Homo sapiens: one gene and its partner. The protein of the gene in region 1 purifies or fractionates together with the protein of each later gene. This does not show direct contact. Each region holds a gene or a part of one and is shown in the gene's direction. Other genes may lie near its edges. The genes, in order: PPIL2 and KANSL2.

What was found.
Region 2: the proteins of PPIL2 (region 1) and KANSL2 purify together in Homo sapiens (affinity purification with mass spectrometry; one large-scale study listed by BioGRID and IntAct). This does not show direct contact.

The regions. Positions count from the first base shown.
Region 1 is NC_000022.11:21,686,252-21,690,064, forward strand, and holds part of PPIL2 (RING-type E3 ubiquitin-protein ligase PPIL2), read left to right. Parts: intron 1-231; coding exon 232-307; intron 308-640; coding exon 641-747; intron 748-1,391; coding exon 1,392-1,481; intron 1,482-1,821; coding exon 1,822-1,855; intron 1,856-2,480; coding exon 2,481-2,598; intron 2,599-3,813. UniProt on the Homo sapiens protein: Has a ubiquitin-protein ligase activity acting as an E3 ubiquitin protein ligase or as an ubiquitin-ubiquitin ligase promoting elongation of ubiquitin chains on substrates.
Region 2 is NC_000012.12:48,658,042-48,661,854, reverse strand, and holds part of KANSL2 (KAT8 regulatory NSL complex subunit 2), read left to right. Parts: intron 1-1,235; coding exon 1,236-1,489; intron 1,490-3,813. UniProt on the Homo sapiens protein: Non-catalytic component of the NSL histone acetyltransferase complex, a multiprotein complex that mediates histone H4 acetylation at 'Lys-5'- and 'Lys-8' (H4K5ac and H4K8ac) at transcription start sites and promotes transcription initiation.

The DNA.
Region 1 (3,813 bases):
GGTTTCACCTGATATCATAAGAGTCGGGATCCAGTGGAGGCCAGGGGACCCTGGCTTGGCCTAGCCTTGGCTTCTTCCTCCTGCTGGTTGGGGAGGCCCTCCTGGAGGAGAGGCACCAAGCAGGGCCTGGGGGGCAGGGGTGGCGTGTGGTTGGCTTCTAGGCAAGCGACACGTCCCCACCCAACTGCCTCCCATGGCACTGCTGAGGTGCCACCCTGGTTTCCTTGGCAGGCCCACTATTCCACAGGGAAGGTCAGCGCTTCCTTCACCTCCACCGCGATGGTCCCGGAGACCACACATGAAGCAGGTAGCCACCTTGGCCTCTGTAGCCACCTGCCATGTGACCCAAAAGTGGCAGGGGGTGGGTGTGCTCCCCGACTCCCACTTTATTGGTCTGTCAGGGGCTCCCACTGTCACCTGAGCCCCTAGTCCTCCCCCTCTTAGCTGCTGAACCCCTGCCAGCCCCATGAGGCTGGGGTGAGCCTGTGCGTGGCCTAAGCAGACCCTCGGCCTCCAGCTCCCCTGCTCTCCCCAGAGCTGGAGCCTAGTCCCCGCCTGTGTGTCTGAGGTCGGTGCTGCCTGGCATGGTGGGGCTGCCCCAGGGTGAGGGCAGGGGCTGAGCTGGGACCTTGGCTTGTAGCTGCCATCGACGAGGATGTGCTGCGCTACCAGTTTGTGAAGAAGAAGGGCTACGTGCGGCTGCACACCAACAAGGGCGACCTCAACCTGGAGCTGCACTGCGACCTGGTGGGTGTGGAGGCCAGCCACTCCCCATGCCCCAAGGTCATCTCTGGGTCATCTGACAGCCATGTCTTAAATATAGGGCTGCCACTGGTATGTGCTTGTTGTAGGAAATTCAGCCTGTCACTAGGCGGGACCCGCAGCAGTGCCCTGTGTCCTTCCTAGGGGGCCGCGTTGGCAGCATGGCCTGCGCACAGGTGCCAGTGTCTCAGAGAAGGGGCCAAGCCGCACCTGCTGCTCTGCCCACACTTCTCCCATGCGCTGTACTCTGGGCCGTGCGGCTGCACGGGTCCTGTTGCTTAATGTTGTGGGTCCATCCGTGCCCAGTGTGGCTGGGCAGCTGACTCTGCTACATGTTAAAGACCAGCCTGGCCAACATGGGGAAACCCGTCTCTACTAAAACTACAAAAATTAGCCAGGCATGGTGGCGCATGCCTGTAGTCCTGGCTACTCGGGAGGCTGAGGCAGGAGAATGTCTTGAACCTAGGAGGCGGAGGTTGCAGTGAGCCAAGATCGCGCCACAGCACTCCAGCCTGGGCAACAGCAAGACTCCACCTCAAAAAAAAAAAAAAAAAAAAAGCCTCCTGTGGCTGTGGTGAGCTGCCTTTGGCAGCTCTCTGCTTCATACAAGTATTGGGGCTATGTTGCAGACACCAAAAACCTGCGAAAACTTCATCAGGCTTTGCAAGAAGCATTATTACGATGGCACCATCTTCCACAGATCCATCCGGAACTTTGTGGTGAGTGACGAGAGTCACTGGCTGCACAGATGAGCTTGGTGGGACATCGGGGGCTGGGTGGGCTTGTCCCTGCCCCATCCCAGGGCCCTGGCCCATCCCACGGTGGCCAGGATGAGTCCAGTTGGTGATCCTCTGTTGGGGAACCCATAGACTGACCCTTGAGGCCCCAGCCCATCCAGAACTGGGTTCACAAAGGGAGGTGGCTGGGAGGGCCCCTCATTATCACCAAGAGCCCAGCCCCTGTGTGGAGCCATCTGGCAGGAGGGGTGTCCTTCAGTCAGGCAGGCGGTGGGCCTCGGGTCTCAGAGTGTGACTTGCTCACTGGCTTTTGTTTTCACAGATCCAAGGGGGCGACCCCACAGGCACAGGCACGGGTAGGTACTGGTGCTGGGCCCCTCTCTGGGCACTTTGGCTGCTCCGTGGGGCATGAGGGGGTAGCTGGGCAGGGGTTGTGCACAGCTCAGACATGGAATCTGCTAGACCAGGGTGGAACGACTGGCAGCCATCAGTGCTGTGCCCCCTCAGGCCTGGCCCTCAGTTTTCTCATTTCCAGGTGGCTGTGAGGCCTGCATGGTAGAGGAGGCAAGAGTGTGTGGTCTCTTCCCTGGGCCCCTGGGGTCTGCCTCAGACTGAGGCCAGCCCTCCCTCCTGCAGCCTCTCCAAGCCCCTCAGCCTGGCAGCTGCTTGGGTCCAGATCCCCCAACCTCTGTATTCCCATAGCTTGAGTGATGATGATGGTGGCCTTGACTCTTTAATCCCTGTCCCGGGGCAGGCCCCAGGCGGGGCTGGGGTGAGTGGGCAGCAGCCTGCCTGTTTGGAGGCGTGGGGGCTCCAAGGGACCCAGGAGTTGGTGGCGTGGGGCTGGGAGCCTCCCTATCAAGTGCCCCTGCCCCAGGCTGGGCTCAGCAAGGCCCTGATGCCCCTCGGGACTCTGAGGTTTCTAGTTCTGCCTCGGCTGGGGCCCAGGCTTTCCTGCTCCCATGGGCCTTTCTCTTCCAGGTGGGGAGTCATACTGGGGGAAGCCCTTCAAAGACGAGTTCCGGCCCAACCTCTCGCACACGGGCCGCGGCATCCTCAGCATGGCCAACTCCGGGCCCAACAGCAACAGGTCTCAATTGTGAGTCAGCTGGGCTTGCTGGGGTGGCCTGGGAGGTGAGCCGGCACTCTCTGCGGGTTCTTCCTCTTGGCCCTCTCTGAAGGGTGTGCTGGTTCTGAATCATACCCAGACGGTGTACGGCACACCTAGGCCAAGCATGTGCACCTGCGTTCAAAAGGGGGTCCCCAGAGTGAGTCAGCAGGGAGAGCTGCCCGCACCGGGTGTGTCCTCGAGAGACCAGAAGTCGGGAATTACTGGAGGTCCAGAAGGGCTTCTTGACAGGGACCAGGCATTCGTGTGGGTGCCTGTGGCCAGGCAGTGCTGGGGGAGGTCAGCGTGTGGGAGGGGTTGTGCAGGGCACAGGCTGCACAGGGAGAGGCGCCTGGAGAGACACAGGAGGTCTGGCCCTGGTGCATGTGGGGAGCAGTGTGCAGTCTGGTGGCAGGAGGCAGGGGATGGGGGGCCAGCAGGGCCATGCACACAGGGGCCGGATGCCTGTATTGTGGAAGAACAGAGGTGCCCTTTCCATCCCCAGACAGTGGCCTGATGTTATGTTTCAGTCTTTCAATCGTTTTCTTCACATGGGTCCTGTGACTTCCGGGATAAAGCAACCTCTTAAGGATTTTTTATAGTTTATGATACTTTTGTAAATGGACTTTTTTTTTCCCAACTTTTGGGGATCATTGCTCATGTAGAGAAAAACTACCGTTCATTTTATATCTAGCCACTTTAACAAATTATCTTATAATTCAAAAGTTTTTAAGATTTTTTTGGGTTTTCTAGATAGTCACGCTTATCACCAAAAGCTGGTCTGCTCTCTGCTTCCCTGGTGTGCACATCAGTCACGTCACCGTCACGTCACCGTGGGCCTGATGGGGGAGGAGGATGTGGGCATCTTGCTGTGCTCCACAGAAATCGCTGTTTTGCCTTCTCAGAACATTTGTTGTTGGGCTGTTTTTAGGAGGGTGGCTGACTTTTTAGAGGTTTCTTTGTTAGCATCTACTATGATGATTCTGTCCTTTTTCTGGTCCTCCCGGGATTTGTGGATGTGGCCACTACAAGGCCAGAGTGGATGGGTGTCTCCGTGGCATTCTGGGGTGAACCCTGGCCTGTCGTGGCTTCGCCGTGGCCTTCTGCCAGCTCACTGTCACACGTGGTCTCGGTTGTGTGGACTGGCTCCAGCAGGTTTTGCTGTGACAGGTGTGGCCCCTGCATGTTACGAGCAGGGCTGGCTGT
Region 2 (3,813 bases), on another chromosome or scaffold:
ACTCAGATGGAGGTGCTACTGACAGCTAGTGGATAGAGGCCAGGAATGCTGCTATACATCCTTCTTCCAACAAAGATGTACCTGGCCTACAGTGTTGGTAGTGCCACAGTTGTCACACCCTGCTTGAGAGTTTAGTTATTTCCAAGTATGCATTGAAAGAAATAGCTTTATTCAAGGAAGTTCATATGGTTTTAAAAATTATAATGTATGTTAGTTTTTTTATTTAAAAAAATTACCATAAAAGTTTTGAGTTGAAAATTATAACTCCATAATTCAGGTACTATCAGTTTAAGAAAAATTGTGTTTTCTGGTTAAAAATAAGTCAAATTTTAAAATAATGTTTATTAATCTAGGAAGATAACCAGGTAGTTAACAGATTTCAAGAAATGGTAGCACTTGCATAAAATGTGTTTTGTAAAGTAACTTGAATTTTATTGTATCTAATCATCTCAATTTTGGTTCATCCTACAGAGCTTCTTTGCTAACTTGGAAATATAGCCCTTTTCTTCTTCTACCTTTAACAAAAGTTGTTAATAGAGTCCTTGGAATGTTTCTAGAATACTTTTTTTTTTCAATGGGCCTTCATACACAAAATTTTCTTCTTCCTTTAGGATCATAAAAGGATTCCTCTGTACTAGCACACTCCCCTAAAAAAAAAAGGCATGTATATTTAATTTCTTGTTAGGATATGATACCTAGTGACTTTTACTAGAGCTCTGTTTCCCCCTATTCCAGTGGTGCTTTAAATGAATTTATCATGTAATCATCTTTGGAAACGAGGTCCAAGAAATTGTTGCAAACTTTGCCAGTCTGCTAAGGGAGCAGAGACATTGTATCGCTTGACTCTTTTGGAAGGGCTGTTTAGGGGCATTTTCAAGGCTATTTGCATTTGCCACTACATGTTTCTTCTGAATATGTGTGTGTTCCTAGGAGTGTTACTGCTACTTGCTTAAGGGAGAATGGGATGGTGTCTAGTTTAAATGACCAGGATCCTGAAAAGGAGGTTGGGGACAAGTTTTAAATTACTGGTAGAGCTAGAATTTGATGCTAGTAAATGACATTTATTTTGAGAAGTAACTTTAAAAATTGCTAACTGCATTTGGTATTCTGTATCAAATGTAGTTGTAATTTATCTTATATAGTCCACACCTTGAGTTTTATGTGGCAGACAATGCTATTTGTATTTTATGCTTTCGATAGATTGTGTTTTATTTCCCTTGACCATTTTTCTACAGATATTTGTCAGGATACGAATCAGGTTCTCTTCAAGTGCTGCCAGGGATCTGAAGAGGTACCCTGCAACAAACCTGTTCCTGTAAGCCTCTCTGAGGATCCCTGCTGCCCACTGCATTTCCAGTTGCCTCCTCAGATGTATAAGCCCGAGCAGGTACTGTCTGTGCCAGACGATCTGGAAGCCGGCCCCATGGATCTGTACTTGAGTGCTGCTGAGCTTCAGCCCACTGAGAGTTTACCTCTGGAGTTCAGTGATGTAAGTTAGAGAAGCTCTGCTTTGGTTCAGGCCCTTGAGACAAAGCCTTATTTATTAATGGTGAGAATAGGTTAGTCTTTGTGGTTAGGAGAATCGACAAAGTTTTTGAAGTGATATATACGTATAGTTGTATTTATATGTTAGCATATTCATTTAGAGAAATCTACCCTACCTTATATTTTTTTCCAGACTCTTCCCATACCTTTTTAGGGATACAATTTACATACTATAAATTGCACTCTTTGAAAGTGTATAATTGAGTGATTTTTAGTATATTCGCAAAGTTACGCAACTACCACCACTATCTAATTTCAGAAGGTTTTCACCATCTCCAAAAGAAACTCAGTACCTATTATGACACTCTTCATTTTCTTCTCCCCTCAGCCCCTGGCCACGATGAATCTACTTTTTGTCTCTGATTTTGCTTATTCTGGACATTTCATATCAATGTAATAGTATATGTATCCTTTTGTGTCTTGCTTGTTTCACTTAGCATAATGTTTTCAAGGTTTATCCATACTATAATATGTATCAATACTTCATTCCTTTTTGTGACTGAATTAATATTCCATTGTTTGGAAATACCACGCTTTAAAAATATATCAGTTGATGGATATTTGTGCTGTTTCTACTTTCTGGCTATTAAGGAATATACTGTTAAGAACTTTTGAGACAGAGTTTCTGTCGGTGGCATGAGCCACCACGCCCAGCTTAGTTATCATTTTTATAACTTTTTTTTTTTTAAATTGGGGTCTTGCTCTGTTGCTCAGGCTGGAGTGCAGTGGCATGATCATGGCTCCGTGCAGCCTCGAACTCCTGGGCTTAAGTGATCCTCCTGTCTCAGCCTCCCAAGTAGCTGGGACTATAGGTTTATGCCACCATGCCCAGCCAATTTTTTATTTTTTGTATAGATGAGATCTCCCTATGTTGCATGGGCTGGTCTTCAACTCCTAGGCTCAAGTGATCCTCTTACCTTGGCCTCAAGTGATCCTCTTACCTTGGCCTCCCAAAGTGCTGGGATTACAAGTGTGAACCACTGTGCCTGGCCACTATAACTTGGCTTTTTTTTTTTTAGACTGAGTCTTGTTCTGTTGTTCAAGCTGGAGTGCAGTGATGTGATCTCAGCTCACTGCAGCCTCTGCCTTCAGGGTTCAAGTGATTCTTGTGCTTCACCCTCCTGGGTAGCTGGGACTACAGGTGTGCGCCAGCAGGCCTTGCTGATTTTTGTATTTTTTGTAGAGACAGGGTTTCACCATGTTGGCCAGGCTGGTCTCTAACTCCTGGCCTCAAGTGACCCACCCACCTTGGCCTCCCAAAGTGCTGGGATTATAGGCATGATTCACCATTCCTGGCGTATAACTGTTAATGATAACTTTGGTGATTTTACTTGCGGGAAGACTAGGCATCAGATATTAATATGAGTAAAAACACAGCCGTTCATTCTGGATATTTGCTTGTTTTCTGTGCTTTGATGCAAGGATGGTTGGCAAGTAGTAACTTAACACCTTAATCTTACTACTTTTGAGTTCCTTCTCTCTCATTCTCTATTGCTGGTTTTGGAGATAGTAACAAAACGTGGATTCTCTTATTTTATCTTTATTTATTTTTTGAGACGGAGTCTTGGTCTGTCGCCCAGACTGGAGTGCAGTGGCACGATCTCGGCTCACTGCAACCTTCACCATCTGGGTTCAAGCAATTCTCCTGTTCCTGCCTCCCGAGTAGCTGGGATTACAGGTGTGTGCCACCATGTCTGGCTAATTTTTGTATTTTTTAGTAGAGATGGGGTTTCGCCATGTTGGCCAGGCTGGTCTCGATCTCCTAACCTCAGGTGATCCACTCCCCTCAGCTTCCCCAAAGTGCTGAGATTATAGACATGAGACATCGCGCCCAGCTGAAAACATGGATTCTCTTTATATCCTGATACTTCAATTTTTAAAACACTCCTGTTTTAATAGGCATTTTTGCTGATTTTCTTATTTTAGGATCCTTTTCCCAGTTTAAAATCTTATAAAAGACAACCCTTTGTATATATGAGAAAAGCCTTTTCTGAAAACATACACATTCCATTATTATCTTGAGATTTAGATGCCTTTTGATTCAGTGTTTAAATAATTCCAAGCTAGTCATTATTATTTTTGACAGAGTCTCGCTCTGTCACCTAGGCTGGAGTGCATTGGCGTGATCTCGGCTCACTGCACTGTCTGCCTCCTGGGTTCAAGCGATTCTCCGGTCTAAGCCTTCCGAGTAGTTGGGATTACAGGTGCGCCCCACTGTGCTTGGCTAATTTTTGTATTTTTAGTAGAGACAGGGTTTCACCATGTTGG